Homo sapiens: one gene and its partners. The protein of the gene in region 2 purifies or fractionates together with the protein of the main gene of each other region. This does not show direct contact. Each region holds a gene or a part of one and is shown on either strand. Other genes may lie near its edges.

Region 1 (4,199 bases), on a different chromosome or scaffold from region 2:
TTGAACTCCTTGCCTCTGCTCACCCTGTTTGTTTCTGCAAACCCACATTGCTTTACCCGTCCTCTGCATCTCGTGTGACACTCAGAATCACTGCCAGGCAAAGAATTTGTAACAACAACGACAGCTAGCATTAATTGAACATGTACTGTGTGCAGTTCTAAAATCTTCATGTGGGTTTTTTCATTTAATTATCACAACTTGAGGAAATAGGCACTATTTTATCTGCATTTTGCACATGAGGACTTGGGTTGGATGGAGATTGTTGCCCACAGTCAAGTAGTCGGCAAGTGACAGAGGCAGGATGAAATGACAGGTGGCCTGCATCCACAGCCCACCTTGGTGTTGCCTGCTCAACTAGGATGTGAGCATCTCAAGGACAATGGATATTTTATAGTCGCCTAATTGGATTGGTGTTATGGAAGCTTCATAGAAAACATTACATGAAAATGTGTACTTTATAGATATATAGTCATTTTTTGTCTTTCACCTCACTGAAAGAGAAATACAGGCACCAATTGGGCCCCTCAATTGTATTTGTCCCCTGTTATTACAGTCACCCCCATCTATGTTTACCCTCGCCTCCTTCTCTGCAGTCCCAGAGGGCAGAGGGGGTGCCACTCCCCTTTCAAGGATTACCCCTTGGAGATCATCCATCCATTTCTGTCCTCTCAGGGACTTTACCCCACCAATGACTTCCCCTCTTTCTTGTATCTTTGTCCTTTTTCTCTGCATCGACTCTTTCCATCAGCAGATAAACACATGGTTGGATCTCTTTTCTCCTAAAAATCCTCCTTCTTCATTTGTTTTCTCTCCAACTAGCACCCTATTCCCTTCAGTCCACAGCCATGCTTTCTAGAAGAGTAGTTTACATGGTTTACTCCTTCACACCTTTTATGTTCAGTTCATAGCCCATTATGGATTGGTGTTCACTCTCATCATGCCAGCAGAACTGCCCAAGACATCAGGGATCCCTGGTGCTAAATCTGATGGACAGTTTTCTGTCCTTATCTGACCTGCTCCCACTTTTTGGAACTCTTTGGCTTCCATGAATTTATCCTGTTCTAATTTCCTTTGTCTGGGGGCTCCTGCTGTCCTACATGAGTTGCTCTTTCTTACTTGACCCTTTAGTATGTTGCATTCCCCAAAGCTTCTGTACTTGGCCCTTATTATCCTCACTTGAAACTCTTTTTCCTGATTGATCTCATCTTCTGTTAGGTTTCAGTGATCACTAGTAAGTTGATGATCCCCAAATATATGTATATTTTATGCCCTGTCCTCTATTCTGAATTTCAGGTCAGAACATACAAATGCCTAGTGTTTTACAGGGACTTCCCACTCAGTAAGGTCAAGATGGGACTTGACTTCTAGCCTGACTTCCTCACTGCCCTCCTCCAAGTGTGTTTATGTCAGCAAAGCCCCCACACTGTCCAAGCCAAAGTCTTGGGAGCTACCATTGATTTTTCCCTTTTCTATATTTTCTGTATCTCATTCATTCACTCAGGAAACACTAGTTGAGCATTTTCTCTGTGTCAGGCCTGTGCTTGTTTCCGAAGATCCAGATCTGCTGTCATAGAGCTTCCGGTCTATCAGGGAAGACAAATGTTAAATGAATACACATTTATTAATTAGAATTGTGCCAGAAGTTACAAAGGGTGCACAAGAAACTATGAGAGGAGCTAGTTCAGTCCCAAATCCTGTTGCTTCTGCCTTCTAAATGATTCCTTCTCAAATGTCTACACCTCTCCTCCTCACTGTTGCCATAGGCTGCCATACTGTCTGGCTTGAACGCCTACGGGAGCTTCCTTCCTAGCCTTACCTCCAGCTCACTTGCCTCCCAAGACTTCTTAGGATATATTGCATGTTCCCCAGAAAACCATTCAAGGCCCTTCCTAGCTGGGCCCCCATTCTTTTCTCTAGCCACATCCATCCTTTGTAGGATTACCTCCAGGATGAGGAGCTCTTCACCTTTAAAGATGAGCAAACTGAGGTTGGCTGCTTTAGCCAGACTTGAACTGCTGTTTTTCAGAGTCCTGAGTGATGCTGGGTGACCTGAGGGGCCAGGTGTAGAAATCTGGCATTTCTGAGCTTGGAGTAACCTTCGATCACCTACTCTCAGGGATCCCAATTGGCCTGAGTCAGGGAGTGTGTCAGCATCACCCAGGGGTTCCTAAATGTCCCATGCTTGCTGCTCCTATCCCTTCTTGGATTTTCTGGGTGGCTTAGGGATCACTGACTCAGTTGCACCCCTCTCAGCCCCCTCCTTGCCCTCAGGAGGCTGCTGTTCTGGCTTTCAACAGCCTTGGAAGCCTTGGAGCTGCTGGTTGCCCAGCCTTTTTTTTTTTTTTTTCTTTTTTAGCCTTTGGTCTTTATTTTAATTTCCCTGATGGAGGACATGGGTAAGCATTGATAGTGGAATAACGTGAGGACCTGAATTCATTCCGGAAATCTAAGTTTGGGCACAGTTGTGGATGACTTTGTACTTGGTAGGTAGAAATGGGGCCATTATCCCATTACAACAGTCTTGAATACAGGATGATATAACCTCGTAATGAAACTAAGATGTTCTCTGCTCAAAACGCCCTCAAAATGACTTGGACCTGAAGCAGCACATGACTCAACCCATCTGCTCCCTGCAGATGGCCCTGAGTGGCTTTGTCCACTGCCTCTGCAGCACCCTTGCTCAAGCTCCTCTGATGTGTGGGCCCCACCATCAGGCTCATTTAGTACTGGCTAAGGCTATCAGAGCTGACACAGAGGGGACTCTCTGTCCTCAAACCGCCCCACTCTAGCCCCTGGTAGCCTGTCACTTTCTGAATTCTCACTGTTTCTGGTTGTTCCCTGTCAAATTGCAAATGCTCCCTGAGGGGATATTTCAAAACACTAGCCATTAGCATCTCAGAGCAAATCGATTCATTTACTAATTGGAACAGCCACTGAAGGTCCAGAACACAGGCCACTGTTCTAGGGTTTCTGAAAAGTGGCCTAAGGACAACCGGCATGAAGAGTTGACTGAATCAGAACCTCAGGGCATAGGACCTGGGATTCTTGTGCTCATTAGAGTTTGAGAAGCACTGTTTGAGCAGGTCTGGCCTGGGAGGAAAGTCTGGGGCAATGAGTTTCTTGGGGTGGAGGCATTGTTTTAGTGAAGTTGAGGGTGCTTAATATAGGAGGTGGGAGAGTACAGGAGTTAGAGGCATCTGTTTCTTAAATGAACTTCCTAATTATGTGATGTAGCCCTCATCACTGGGAACACCTTCGCCTCAGCACTTGCCACTCTGCACTTGCTCACCTGGGACCTTGCCTGCTGAGCGCTGTTCTCCTCTCACCTCCTGTGTGCTTATCTTTCTATTTAGGTCCATAGGCTACCAGCTATAGGAGGCCTTTGAGGATCTCTAACCCAAATCCTTTATTTTAAGGACAAGAAAAGTGACTCTTGAAGAAGGAAAGTGAGTTTCCCCATATCACACAGTGGCATTTCTGGGATCAAGACAGGGCTTCCTGGCTTTCAATTCTATTTTCTGTTTCTCGTATCCTAGATTATCTTATTCAAGACAAAAATTATGACTTTTTTTCTCGGTGAAACAGCCACCCCAGCATTATAATGCAATGTTGGGGACATAATGAATATACAATAAATGTTTCAGAGTTAAATGGATCATGATGTGCTTGACAGCAAAGAAATATCATGGCATCAGGGAAAAACATTGAACTTGGATGTCAGGATATCTCTGTGCTGGGCTTTTCTCTATAGCCACTTACCTGTGACTCTGGATTCTAAAGTTCCAGCTTAAACATCCTATGTTAAAAGGCTACCCTAACCAGTATGGTAGCCAGTAGCCTTAGGTGGCTATTTAAATGTATTGAAATAAAATAAAATAAAAATTCAGTTCATTTGTTCTAGCCAAATTTCAAGAGCTCAATGGCCACATGCGGCTAGTGACTACTGTATCCGACACCATATATATAGACTATTTACCCTGTTGCAGAAACTTCTATTGGACAGCATTAGAGCAGACTTTGCGGGTAGAGGGGAATGGGATGTATGAGGCTAGGTTTTGTATGTTTTGGAGCTTAGAGTTTGAGTGAGTTTTCGAGAGCCTCCTGAAAGCCATTCAACCCTGTCCCCTGAGGGAAATCAAATATCCTGGGAAGAACTCAATGACCACTCTCACCTTCAAGTAGCATTAATGACTGGAAAA
Region 2 (3,481 bases):
CTTCTTTTGAGAAGTGTCTGTTCATATCCTTCGCCCACTTGTTGATGGGGTTGTTTGTTTTTTTCTTGTAAATTTTTTTGAGTTCTTTGTGGATTCTGGATATTAGCCCTTTGTCAGATGAGTAGATTGCAAAAATTTTCTTTCATTCTGTAGGTTGCCTGTTCACTCTGATGGTAGTTTCTTTAGCTGTGCAGAAGCTCTTTAGTTTAATTAGATCCCATTTGTCAATTTTGGCTTTTGTTGCCATTGCTTTTGGTGTTTTAGACATGAAGTCCTTGCCCATGCCTATGTCCTGAATGGTATTGCCTAGGTTTTCTTCTAGGGTTTTTATGGTTTTAGGTCTAACATGTAAGTCTTTAATCCATCTTGAATTAATTTTTGTATAAGGTATAAGGAAGGGATCCAGTTTCAGCTTTCTACATATGGCTAGCCAGATTTCCCAGCACCATTTATTAAATAGGGAATCCTTTCCCCATTTCTTGTTTTTGTCAGGTTTGTGAAAGATCATATGGTTGTAGATGTGTGGTATTATTTCTGAGGGCTCTGTTGTGTTCCATTGGTCTATATGTCTGTTTTTGTACCAGTACCATGCTGTTTTGGTTACTGTAGCCTTGTAGTATAGTTTGAAGTCAGGTAGCACATTACTCATGTTCTTTCTTTCAGAAATAGGTCTTAGTAGAAAGTAAAAAATTTCAGTAGGCATACCGTGTCACCTGGAAAGAGTAGAAACACAAAATCCACTTGAGGAATTCATTTTTCTATTTTTTGTGTGTGTACTTACATTTTACCCCTTCAGTTTCCATCTAAGCCAATCATAGTTTCTGAGAGCCCAGGGTCCTGTGGATAAGCCGCTTCAGTGCAGCCTTCACTTCTTTATTCCTTGAGCTGTAGATGATGGGGTTCAACATGGGAGTCACCACTGTGGAAGAGAGTGACAGCAGCTTCTTGCTCTCAGAAGAGGCACTGGATTGGGGTCGGAAATACGTGAGGATGGCAGTGCTATAGAAGAGAGAGACAACCAAGAGGTGGGCGGAACAGGTGGAGAATGCCTGATGTTTCCCCTCAGCTGACGGCATCCTGAAGATAGTGGAGAGGATGCGGACATAGGATCCCAGGATCAGCAAGAAAGGAAAGAGAATGAATAGGACAGTGGCTGTCAGAGCCTCCAGTTCAAACACAGAGGTGTCAGCACAGACCAGTGCAATAACAGGAGGGCTGTCACAGAAGAAGTGGTTCACCCTGTTGGGGCCACAAAAAGGGAAACTGAAAATCCATGTGGTTTGCACAGTGGCCACTGAAAACCCTGAGAACCAAGAGGCAGCTGCCAGCTGGGCACAGGATATGTGGCCCATGATGACTGGGTAGTGCAAGGGGTCACAGATGGCCACGTAGCGGTCATATGCCATGGTGGCCAGGAGGCAGCACTCAGCAGCCCCAAAAAAGAAGAAGAAATACATCTGAGTGGCACATCCAAGGAAGGAGATGGTTGTGTCTTGAATGATCAGGGTCCCCAGCATCTTGGGCACAATGACCAAGTTGAAACCTATCTCCAGGAAGGACAAGTTTCTGAGGAAGAAGTACATAGGACTTTGTAGTGCAGAGTCAGCTATAGTGACCAGGATGATGAGGACATTGCCCATTAAAGTAACCAAGTAAATGGTCAAGAAAAGGAGAAACAGTAGAGCCTGAAGCTCAGTGGACAGGGCTGAGAAGCTCACGAGAACAAATTCACTGACAATTGTCCAGTTTTCCCACATCATTCTTCTGCCCAGGACTTCACTGGGCATTCAAAATCTAGGAAGGTAGAAGAAATCTCATATGTTATTTATACCTTTATTATATTCTTATAAAGGGGACCTCCTGTGGCCTCATTCTTTACTTTCCTTGTTAGAGTTGTTGAGGATCAAACATCTATACTCTCCAAAATATAATAAAACAAATTTGACCATTAGATTCACAATTTTTGGGGAAAGAATTCTACTTTTCCAGACTTAATTAACATACTATATATATCTATACATGTCCTGATTTTTCTGTTCTCTGTAGAGAATGGGCAAAATCACAGCTTTATGTTCATGCTCCTACCTTATCTCTCTTCAATAATGGTGCTAAGAAAGGCAGGCCAAGCATTTATGAAGAGAGAGGTCGTGACACATAATGAAAAGTGGTGAGGTCAGGCAGGTATATTTTTTGCAAAACAAAAATGTAGGAAGGAGAAAATCAAAGAAACTGATTCAGCAATTACTAAATGATTCCTGAGGAGGAGATCCGAATGTGTCTCAATCTCAAGAAGCCCATACTCAGGAAGGTTTCACTATATTGTGAGAATCTCAATTTCTACACTCTGAAAATTGCAGTGTAAACAAGAAGACACACAACATAGTCAGGGTGGCTTATCTTGATCCCAGGGATGAGTATTTTCCAAGTGGTTGTATGTGTCAAGATAGCATCAGAACCATGGACAGAATCTAGATGGGTTAAGCATGAACTTTTTCATCAGCTCTCTTGGTTGACTTGTGTCTTGACTCTCAAGAAACTTGAAGCTCACATTTTACATGTTAATAAAATACAACTTAAATATGCAAGTGTGACTAATATGAAATCCCATGAAAAGGAAACAAAAGATTTCATCATTGCATTAATAACGAAGCTTCAAAATTGGGACCCTGAAATTCTTTGTGATGACTATAAACATATGGAGGAATAAAATCTGAAGCACTTAGCATGTTGTCTGCTATACTGTACATGTTCCATGAATGTTAACCATTATAATTATTGATATAATGCTAGACCTATCTTCTAAATCTTCTTATCCAGCTCATTGCCAAAACTCACTATAGCCCCTACTATTCAATCTCTAAAATAAAATAATTAATTCAGTAAATATTGATTATCAGAAGATAATTCTGTATGCTATGCTCTGTTTTAGATACTGAAGATAATACATTAGTAAATAAAACAAGCAAAAATCTCTGCCCTCATAAAACTCATCATAGGGAAGACAGGTTATAAACAAATTCTGTTAAGCCAGGCACGGAGGCTCACGCCTGTAATCACAGCTCTTTGGGAGGTGGAGGCTGGCTGATCACCTGAGATCGGGAGTTCAAGACCAGCCTGACCAACATAGAGAAACCCTGTCTCTACTAAAAATACAAAATTAGCTCGGCGTGGTGGTGCATGCCTGTAATCCCAGCTACTCAGGAGGCTGAGGCAGGAGAATCGCTGGAACACGGGAGGCGGAAGTTGCGGTGAGCCGAGATCACACCATTGCACTCCAGCATGGGCAACAAGAGCAAAATTCCACTCAAAAATTAATTAATTAATTAATTATGTTAGTAGAAAGTATGGTATATAAGAGCAATGGAGAAGAATAAAGTAGTAGAGAAGGAGACAAACATTTAGAGGTGGAAAGTGTCAGGGAAAGCTCCACTGAGAATATGATATTTGAGTAAAGTTCTGAGCAGGTGCAAGAAGTGAATTT
Region 3 (4,199 bases), on a different chromosome or scaffold from region 2:
TGGCCGTGGGGTCCAGGATCTTGTCGATCTGCATCTGTGCCCTGCGGTACACCCGGTGTCGCTCCTTAGTGTCGCCCGAGGACAGGTCGTCTACCACCGGGAACTCGTAGTGCCCGCGGCGCTTGGCGCGCAGGCGGATCTTGTTGCGATGGTGCTCGATCTCAGACTTGTGCCGCAGCGCGGTCTGAATCTGAGGAAGGGTGAGGGAGAGAAAGACAGCCATAGAGGTCCCGGGAAGCTTCTGGGACACACACTTCGCAAAGTCTTTATTTATTTTTATGTTTATTTATTTATTTGAGACAGAGTCTCACTCTGTTGCCCAGGCTGGAGTGCAATGGCATGATCTCAGCTCGCTGCAACCTCCACTTCCCGGGTTCAAGTGATTCTCCTGTCTCAGCCTGCCGAGTAGCTGGGATTACAGACACGCACCATCATGCCCAGTTCATTTTTTGTACTTTTAGTAGAGATGGGGTTTCTCTATGTTGGCCAGGCTGGTCTCGAACTCCTGACCTGAAATGATACGCCCACATCAAGCTCCCAAAGTGCTGGGATTACAGGTGTGAGCCACCATGCCCAGCCAGCAAAGCCTTCTAGGAGCGCCTTCCTGCTATGCTCCTCTCCTCTGGCCCACACTTAACTTGCTGTCTGTAAGCTCCACGGAGTCACCGAGAGAGCGACAGGCACAGACCAGGGAGGAGCAGAGACCCTGCCATCCCACGAGCTTTACCCTCAAGCACTGTGTGGTGCACTGGAGTCTTGTCACCATCCCCCAAAGCAGGGAAAAAAAGTCACTCGAACCTTGGAAATCGGCCAATGACAACTTTAAAGAGACATCTGATAACCAGAAAAGAATATTTTCCTCCTTTAGAGATCTTTAATAAATAGGACTGACAGATATAAAGAGGATAATTACCTAGTGTCACCAAAACAAGTTACCTGACATGAGACCCCCTGCCCCCAGAGTGGTATCCCCAAAGACGGAAACCTGAACTGCGTTGAAGCGTGAGGAGGATCAGAAGCTGAAGTGGCTCTTTCTGAGGAGGGCAGCCCCTGGTCGGCCGCACTAACACTTTTCTGCATGTCTGCCAATGCGCCCCAGAGTGTCCATGCACAGTATCTGATCTCCAACAAGCGTGATGTTTTACATTAAGAATCCTTGTCAGCAGCTTATGCCTTCAGTAACTAGTTGACACTGTACCTTGCACTCATTTTCAAACACAGACCCAATAAGTGTGTGAGTTTTTTTTGTTTTTGTTTTTGTTTTGAGATGGAGTCTCACTCTGTCAACCAGGCTGGAGTGCAGTGGCGAGATCCCGGCTCAGTGCAAACTCCCCCTCCCGGGTTCAAGTGATTCTCCTGCCTCAGCCTCCTGAGCAGCTGGGATTACAGGAACCCGCCACCACGCCCAGCTAATTTTGTATTTTTAGTAGAGATGGCGTTTCACCATGTTGGCCAGGCTGGTCTCAAACTCCCGACCTCAGGCGATCTGCCTGCCTTGGCCCCCCCAAGTGCTGGGATTACAGGCATAAGCCACCGGGCTTAGCCGAGTTTTTTAAGTAACAGACTTTTAAATAAAAGCAAATACCTCTTTGTTGATTTTATTGCTTTCCGCCACTCGGTCGGCTGGGGAGGGGCGCTGGACGGGAGGTGCCGGGATCGGCTGCATGGCGATAAGCTGGATCTTACTGGGGACCCGCCGGCTAGCCTCCGGGGGGCGGGAGATCCTGTCCACGTGCTCGAAGATGGAGGCTGATGAGTGCTGCTCATTTCCCGAACTGGGCAGTGGTGGCCCTGGAACAGAAGGAAAAGCAAAACACATACACGAAGTCATCTAAAGAAACAGCAACTAATCAAAATTGTGAATTATTCTTTAAAGAATCTTTGGATGGGCCTCTGACCAAAAATACATCCCCACTGCAGTAGCAGAGTGTTTACAATTTCACTCTCTGAGCTTAAATAGTCTGGGCTATATACTGTATCCTCTAACTTCATTAAAAATTACAAGTACCCTAAGAAGAGACGTGAGGAAATCATTATGATACTGTGTGAAAAACTGCACTGTTTTGTCTGTGGTTCAAAATCTTCATTCAGAAAGAATATAGGACAGAAGGAGCCTGAAGTTGCTCAGTAGTCAATAAGCCATTCACAGAACTCTCAGAAAACACATTTATAGCGGCTCTGAACTATTGCTACCATCTGGCAGGGAGCTCGCTGGAGTGATACAAATTCAGCTGCCAAGGCAATGTCGTACTACAGAGAAAACAGAAGACCAGTACGTGCAGGCAGGTACCAGTTAACAGTGACCACACTTCTGACTTTTCAGTTCTGATGTGGAAAGAAAACGAAGTTGAAGACACATGAGAAGAAAAAACCTGTTGCTTGCAGGGAATTAGTTCCTACTTTATTTATTTTTTTAATTTATTTTTTATTTTTTTGAGACGGAGTCTCACTCTCTCGCCTAGGCTGGATAGTGATTCTCCTGCCTCAGCCTCCTGAGTAGCTGGAATTACAGGAGCATGCCACCATGCCTAGCTAACTTTTGTATTAATACTTTTAGTAGAGACAAGGTTTCACGATATTGTCCAAGTTGGTCTTGAACTCCTGACCTCAAGTGATCCACCTGCCTCGGCCTCCCAAAGTGCTGGGATTACAGGCAGGAGCCACCGGGCCCGGCGCTAGTTCCTACTTTAAAAACAGTTGAAGAGTACATGTATAAATGGTTACATGGCAAATTTTAGGCCATGTATATTCAACCACAATAATTTTCTTAAAAACTAATCAGAACTGTGAAAAAAAAAAAAAAGAAATTCAAATGCACAAAAAAAAAGACAGAAAAGAAACACTTAAAAATATTAACAGAGACTGAATCTTCACATGATGGGTGATTTTTCCCCATGTCTTTTATTTTTGATAATGAGGATTTTCTGTAATAAGTATTATTTTTACAGTAGAGATAATCCCAATACACTTTAATTTTGAAAAAAGAGAAAGAGAAAAATGAAGACGGGCTGAGTAGAAAGAGCTAGTTACTCACACTTAAGAAGATCAACTGGCCAGGCACAATGGCTCATGCCTGTCATCCCAGCACTTTGAGAGGCTGAGGCAAGAGGATTGCTTGAGCCCAGGAGTTTGAGACCAGCCTGGGCAACATAGTTAAGACCTTGTCTCTACAATTTTTTTTAATTAGTTGGGCGTGGTGGCACATGCCTGTAGTCCTAGTCACTCAGAAGGCTGAGGTGGGAGGATCCCTTAAGCCCAGGAGGTAGAGGGTGCAGTGAGCCGAGATCATGTCTCTACATTCCAGCCTGGGTGACAGAGTGAGACCCTGTCCCCCAACCCCCGCCAAAAAAAGATCAACTGATGCCCTTCTTCTAATCAGCCAGTCACTTCTGGATGTTGCTTTCAAATAAATGGCCAGCAGGCTGACAGAGGGAATACGCACATGCAGAAAGTGCTTCTAAACAAAAGCCTAACATTTGAAACTTCAAAGCATAAGTGAAAAACACAAAGGTCTCTCCTCGGTGTAAAAAACATAGATGAGCAAAGCAGTAAGAAGCAGTAGTTGATGTTTCATATAAGGAAAGCACAGCATTGCTATGTAAATCTGTATTTTCTCTCAATTTGAATTACATTCATTATCCCAAGCAATCAGAAGTCATTTGGCTGATTCTGAATGAATGATGTCTGTCTGAGCCAGAGGACACCATTGTCTGGACTCCAGCTATGCTCAAGCTTTCTTTCTTGGCCCCATACCTAGAAGGAACCTGACTATTTGTGCATTTGTGCAATGGAAGCACAGCCAGGCACCACCATTCATCGGTGGCAGCTACTCAAGTTGCAGGCATAATGCCTAAAAGGAGATCATGAGCTTCTCCAGACAGGCTAGCCCTGCTTAACCCAGACTTATAGAGTAACAATAAATGTCACAGAGGGTAGCCCATTAAGCTACTGATACCTAGAAGTGGGATCACTTTCCTCCAGGGTGGCAGAGACTTCTGGGTTGCTGGGAGACAAAGGTGACAGGCATTAAAAAAAAAAAAAAAAAAAGGCCCCTCCCTACTGGGCTGTCAGCCCTGCCTGGGTACCACTGGAGCAGCAGCCTAAGACTGGGCTCCTGTCCAGAGCCCGGCTCACCCCCTCCCACTGTAGTCACGGCCCTTGCTTCACCCTCGCTGAACTGTTCACAGACTGCAACCAGA
Region 4 (4,199 bases), on a different chromosome or scaffold from region 2:
TTTTTTGTTTATTTCTTATCATTTAAATGAAACCCCCAACAGGCAAAATTCATCACTGGGTGCATGGTCCCTACTATTGCTGTGCCGAACTACAAATACCATCTTATGTAACCTTCGTTAACAAGTCAATGGGGATACTATTATGATCTGCTTTTTATTTTTTTTTTTATTTTAAGGAAACCAAGTCTTGGAGAGGGTAAAGATCAGCTCTGGGCGTTAAACCCAGGGCTCTCACTCCAGAGTCCCGCACCCCTACACTCCTAACACCTAATCCCTGGCCCTGGCCTATGTTACAGAATATGGGCCAGTGACCTGGAACAGCCTCCTTTGCCTGCCTCTGCTGGGACCACAGGAAGAATGCTGGAGAAGACCCTGAGATGTGTGTGGCTTTAAGTTCCTTGAAATGACAGTAGCATTGTTTCCTCTTTGAGTGGGAAGGATGGGGAGAAAAGCTGTCAGTTTTGGGAGGTTCGCACTCATGGTAGGGCTGGATGTGGCAGTCCTGAGGAGGCAGCTCACTGCCCCTCTCTCAGGGGCATGTATATGTGCTCTGCTGTTTGGTTGCTAAGGATCAAAGCAGCTTGGCTCTGAGGGAAAAGGGCAGCATCCCAAGGGATGAACTCTCTATAACAGCCCTTCTCTTGGGGTAGGTTTACTGATTCTGTTCCTCTCAGATCATGACAGATGAATCCATTTTATAAGGCAGTACCCTGGGAGCAGGCAGACTCACCACAGCTGTTCTCTTGTTGGTAACCACAGGAAGGAAGGAAGGAAGGAAGGAAGGAAGAATGCAAAGTAAATACTCTAGCCGACAGCCTGTTCAGATTGGGTCTCTGGATACCAGATTTAACCTCTGTGAGCCTCAGTTTGTTAATTTGTAAGGTAGGGATAAAAATATCTACTGTTTAGGATTATCATGAAGATTAGGAATAATATGCACAATGCATGGCAGGTAGTAGGTTATAGACTTATTATGTTCAGAAAATTGTATGTGAAAGTTAATGAGGTTATTGAAATGTGTTAAGCACCATGTGATTTTACAGGAAGAGCCCATGGTGATGTTCACTCAACTCCACAATGCTACCAAGCACAATCTCATATTCACCTATTGATGAAGAATATCCACTAGCTGCATGATTACCCCACACTCTATACATTTGGTCTGCTGCTGAGTCTTTGTAATTTGGGCTTTCAGTTTTAGGAAAGAATGAGTAGTTAATTTACATATTAAAACAGGAGAATGAATTAAGAGTCCAGGTGATTCATAGGGAGGCGATTTTCAGAAAGGATTTTGGTCACTGGCATAATGGAGTTACCACCACAGATGTTTCAAGATTTTTATCTCTGTTCACTGGTTTTTCTAATGTGTTTGGTAAAGGCTGTATTGCCCATATCATCATTCTTTTTTACATGCTTGTAATTCTATATATCTATTTCTTCCCTGATGTCTATGAGGGTATGGAACACATCTGTCTATTTACTGCATCCCCAGCATCTAGCAAAGTGCCTGGCACATAATAGGTACATATATTTAACATGTGTTTGTTCAGTAAACTCATACATGAATGATTTAGAGTGACAAGAATCATGACAATGCATGATTCCCGAAATCTTAAGTTCTTTTCATTTTTGCATTTAAATCTTAAGTTTATATTCACCTTTGCCTCCTTGAAGCTGTTTGTAATAGTAAAAATTAGTAACCATTTACATATCAAACAAAGAGGCATTGTTTGGAACATCTAAATATCTAATAGCTGGATGGCTAAAATAAATTATGGTAGAGTATAGAATACTATGTGAATGCATTTCATGTTTGGACAATGACTACACATTGCAAGAGGTTCTAGGTGGCTAGATAGCAAAGAATAGGTGTTGTCTCTAGGTAGATGGGATTGTGAATATTCCTTAAATTCTTTTGATTATATTTCTGATTCTTATGTAGGAATTTGCATTGCTTTTACAAGGAGGGAATGCAGTATAAGAAATATAAACTATGTATATTATAAGATCACTTATACTGTACCACCTGTCACTGGGCACTTAAGGTTGTCTTCTCAGCTAATTTTCTAAATTTGCCCTCCTCTAACTCTTTTTGAACATTTCAGTAGTTTCCAACCTCTCAGCATTCCAAAATTGCATAATTGAGTTAAAAGAGATGCGTGATTTAAAAAGAAACTCAAAGTAGGAAAAAAAAAGTTAACTGGAATCCAGTGACTAAGAATATTAATTTTTCAGCATGTTGCCACGTTAAATACATTGCTTTGCTGTAAGTCATGGTTAACTTTTGGTCTCATTTCTGCTTTTGGCTTTTGCTTTGTTATGTATACATTTTCTGACAGTTCACGAATACCTCCTGTGTAAGTGTTCCCTAATTGTTTTGCACGTGTGCTTGAGGTGTTTGCAAGGTGGCCACCATTGAATATCATTTCTTTGTCTGCAAAGGCAGCTCCAGGAACGAGAAACTTTGTAAAGTAAGATGGCTTCTGATATGGTTTGGCTGTGTCCCCACCCAAATCTCATCTTGAATTGTAGTTCCCATAATCCACACATCATGGGAGGGACTCAGTGGTTTTATAAAGGGCAGTTCCACTGCACACGCTGTCTTGCCTCCCACCATGTAAAACATGCCTTTGGTCTTCCTTTGCCTCCCGCCATGATTGTAAGGCTTCCCCAGCCATGTGGAACTGTGAGTCCATTAATCCTCTTTTTTTTTTTTTTTTTTTTTTTTTTTTTTTATAGATTACCGAGTCTTCGGTATTTCTTCATAGCAGTATGAAAATGTACTAATACAACTTTTCTCTGTTTTTAAATTAACATTTGCGAATAGAGGTATGAATGAGTAAACTTTTAATATTATACATTTATATATATTGCAAAAATTTTACTGTTGGTTCCGCACTGTTTCTGGGAACATATGACATTGTTTTCTTTCTAACATCTGGTTGCCTCTTTGGTTTTCTGACAGAAGTGGAATTCAGGGTCCCTTTTTCCAGGATCCACCAGCCACATTACTTTTCATGTAGGGAACTCTTTTTCAGTCTTAAAGGAAAGCCCTACTTCATTTTTAATATCTTCCCTCATAGGCACTCTGATAAACTTGTTGAGTGCCCTTGAGACTGTCTCCTTGTTGTTATGCAGCCCTAATATACTCCTTCTCTTGAAGAAAGAATAAGAAGTTCTAATGAGAAGTCCTAATCTCTTGATTTGAAGGCAGTACCCCTATTGCGTCCCACTTGGGGATAATAGGTATGGAATGGGAAAAATCCTGAAAAAAATGTCTCAGAATCTGTCCCTACTAAATCTGCTGCTGACACTCAGGGATTTTGGAACACCCCTCTTCTCTCTCCTTCCCACTTGGCTTTCACTATGAGCTTCTGAGGATTCCTGAGGGTCTCCGCAACTCCACGATGGTGATTCTGTTTTCTGTTTATTAAACTTTTTTGAATTATGAGGTATGCACACATAGAACACCCAAATATTATTTTGTACACTCGTAACCACCACCCAGATGAGGAAATATAATTTTGCCATTGTCTAAGAAGGCTCTTCTATGTGCCCCATTCCCAGAGCTCTTTTCTCCCCTATAAGTAACCAGCATCCTGATTTTGATAGTACAGTTGGCCCTTCCTAGCTGCAGTTTCTGCATCTGCATATTTAACAAACTGCAGAAGGAAAATATTTTAAAAAAATAGAAATAAAAAACAAAAAATAACGCAAAAACAATACAGTATAACAACTACTTACATAACACTTACATCGTATTAGGTGTTATAAATAATCTTGAGATGATTTACAATATACAGGAGGATGTGCTTAGGTTATATGCAAATATTATACCCTTTCACGTAAGGGACTTGAGCAGCCTCGGGTTTTGGTATCCATAGGGGACCTGAAACCAATCCCCTGTGAACACCAAGCATTGACTGTCATTACTTTCTTGCATTTTTAAAATAGTTTTACCATTCATATATGCATTGCTAGTTATAACAATTTAGTTTTACCATTTAGAAACTATGATATGTCTTTTTAATGTATAGATTCTCTCTTTCTTTTCTATTCTTAAAATTTACCTGTTGAAGAACCAGGGCCATTCAGCTTGTAAAATTGACAATCTGGATTTCACTACTTTTGTGCTCACGGTTCAACATTTTTCCTGAAGACTGCCTCTTAGTCTCTTTTCTCTTGCTTATAACAAAATA

Evidence for each region.
Region 1: the proteins of OR10A4 (region 2) and LRRC52 purify together in Homo sapiens (affinity purification with mass spectrometry; one large-scale study listed by BioGRID and IntAct). This does not show direct contact.
Region 3: the proteins of OR10A4 (region 2) and KIAA1549 purify together in Homo sapiens (affinity purification with mass spectrometry; one large-scale study listed by BioGRID and IntAct). This does not show direct contact.
Region 4: the proteins of OR10A4 (region 2) and GADL1 purify together in Homo sapiens (affinity purification with mass spectrometry; one large-scale study listed by BioGRID and IntAct). This does not show direct contact.

The regions. Positions count from the first base shown.
Region 1 is NC_000001.11:165,550,128-165,554,326, reverse strand, and holds part of LRRC52 (leucine-rich repeat-containing protein 52 precursor), read right to left. Parts: intron 1-4,199. UniProt on the Homo sapiens protein: Auxiliary protein of the large-conductance, voltage and calcium-activated potassium channel (BK alpha).
Region 2 is NC_000011.10:6,874,927-6,878,407, reverse strand, and holds OR10A4 (olfactory receptor 10A4), read right to left. Parts: upstream 1,784-3,481; 5' UTR 1,761-1,783; coding exon 813-1,760; 3' UTR 789-812; downstream 1-788. UniProt on the Homo sapiens protein: Odorant receptor. May be involved in taste perception.
Region 3 is NC_000007.14:138,869,572-138,873,770, forward strand, and holds part of KIAA1549 (UPF0606 protein KIAA1549), read right to left. Parts: intron 1,792-4,199; coding exon 1,586-1,791; intron 191-1,585; coding exon 1-190. UniProt on the Homo sapiens protein: May play a role in photoreceptor function.
Region 4 is NC_000003.12:30,887,621-30,891,819, reverse strand, and holds part of GADL1 (acidic amino acid decarboxylase GADL1), read left to right. Parts: intron 1-4,199. UniProt on the Homo sapiens protein: May catalyze the decarboxylation of L-aspartate, 3-sulfino-L-alanine (cysteine sulfinic acid), and L-cysteate to beta-alanine, hypotaurine and taurine, respectively. Does not exhibit any decarboxylation activity toward glutamate.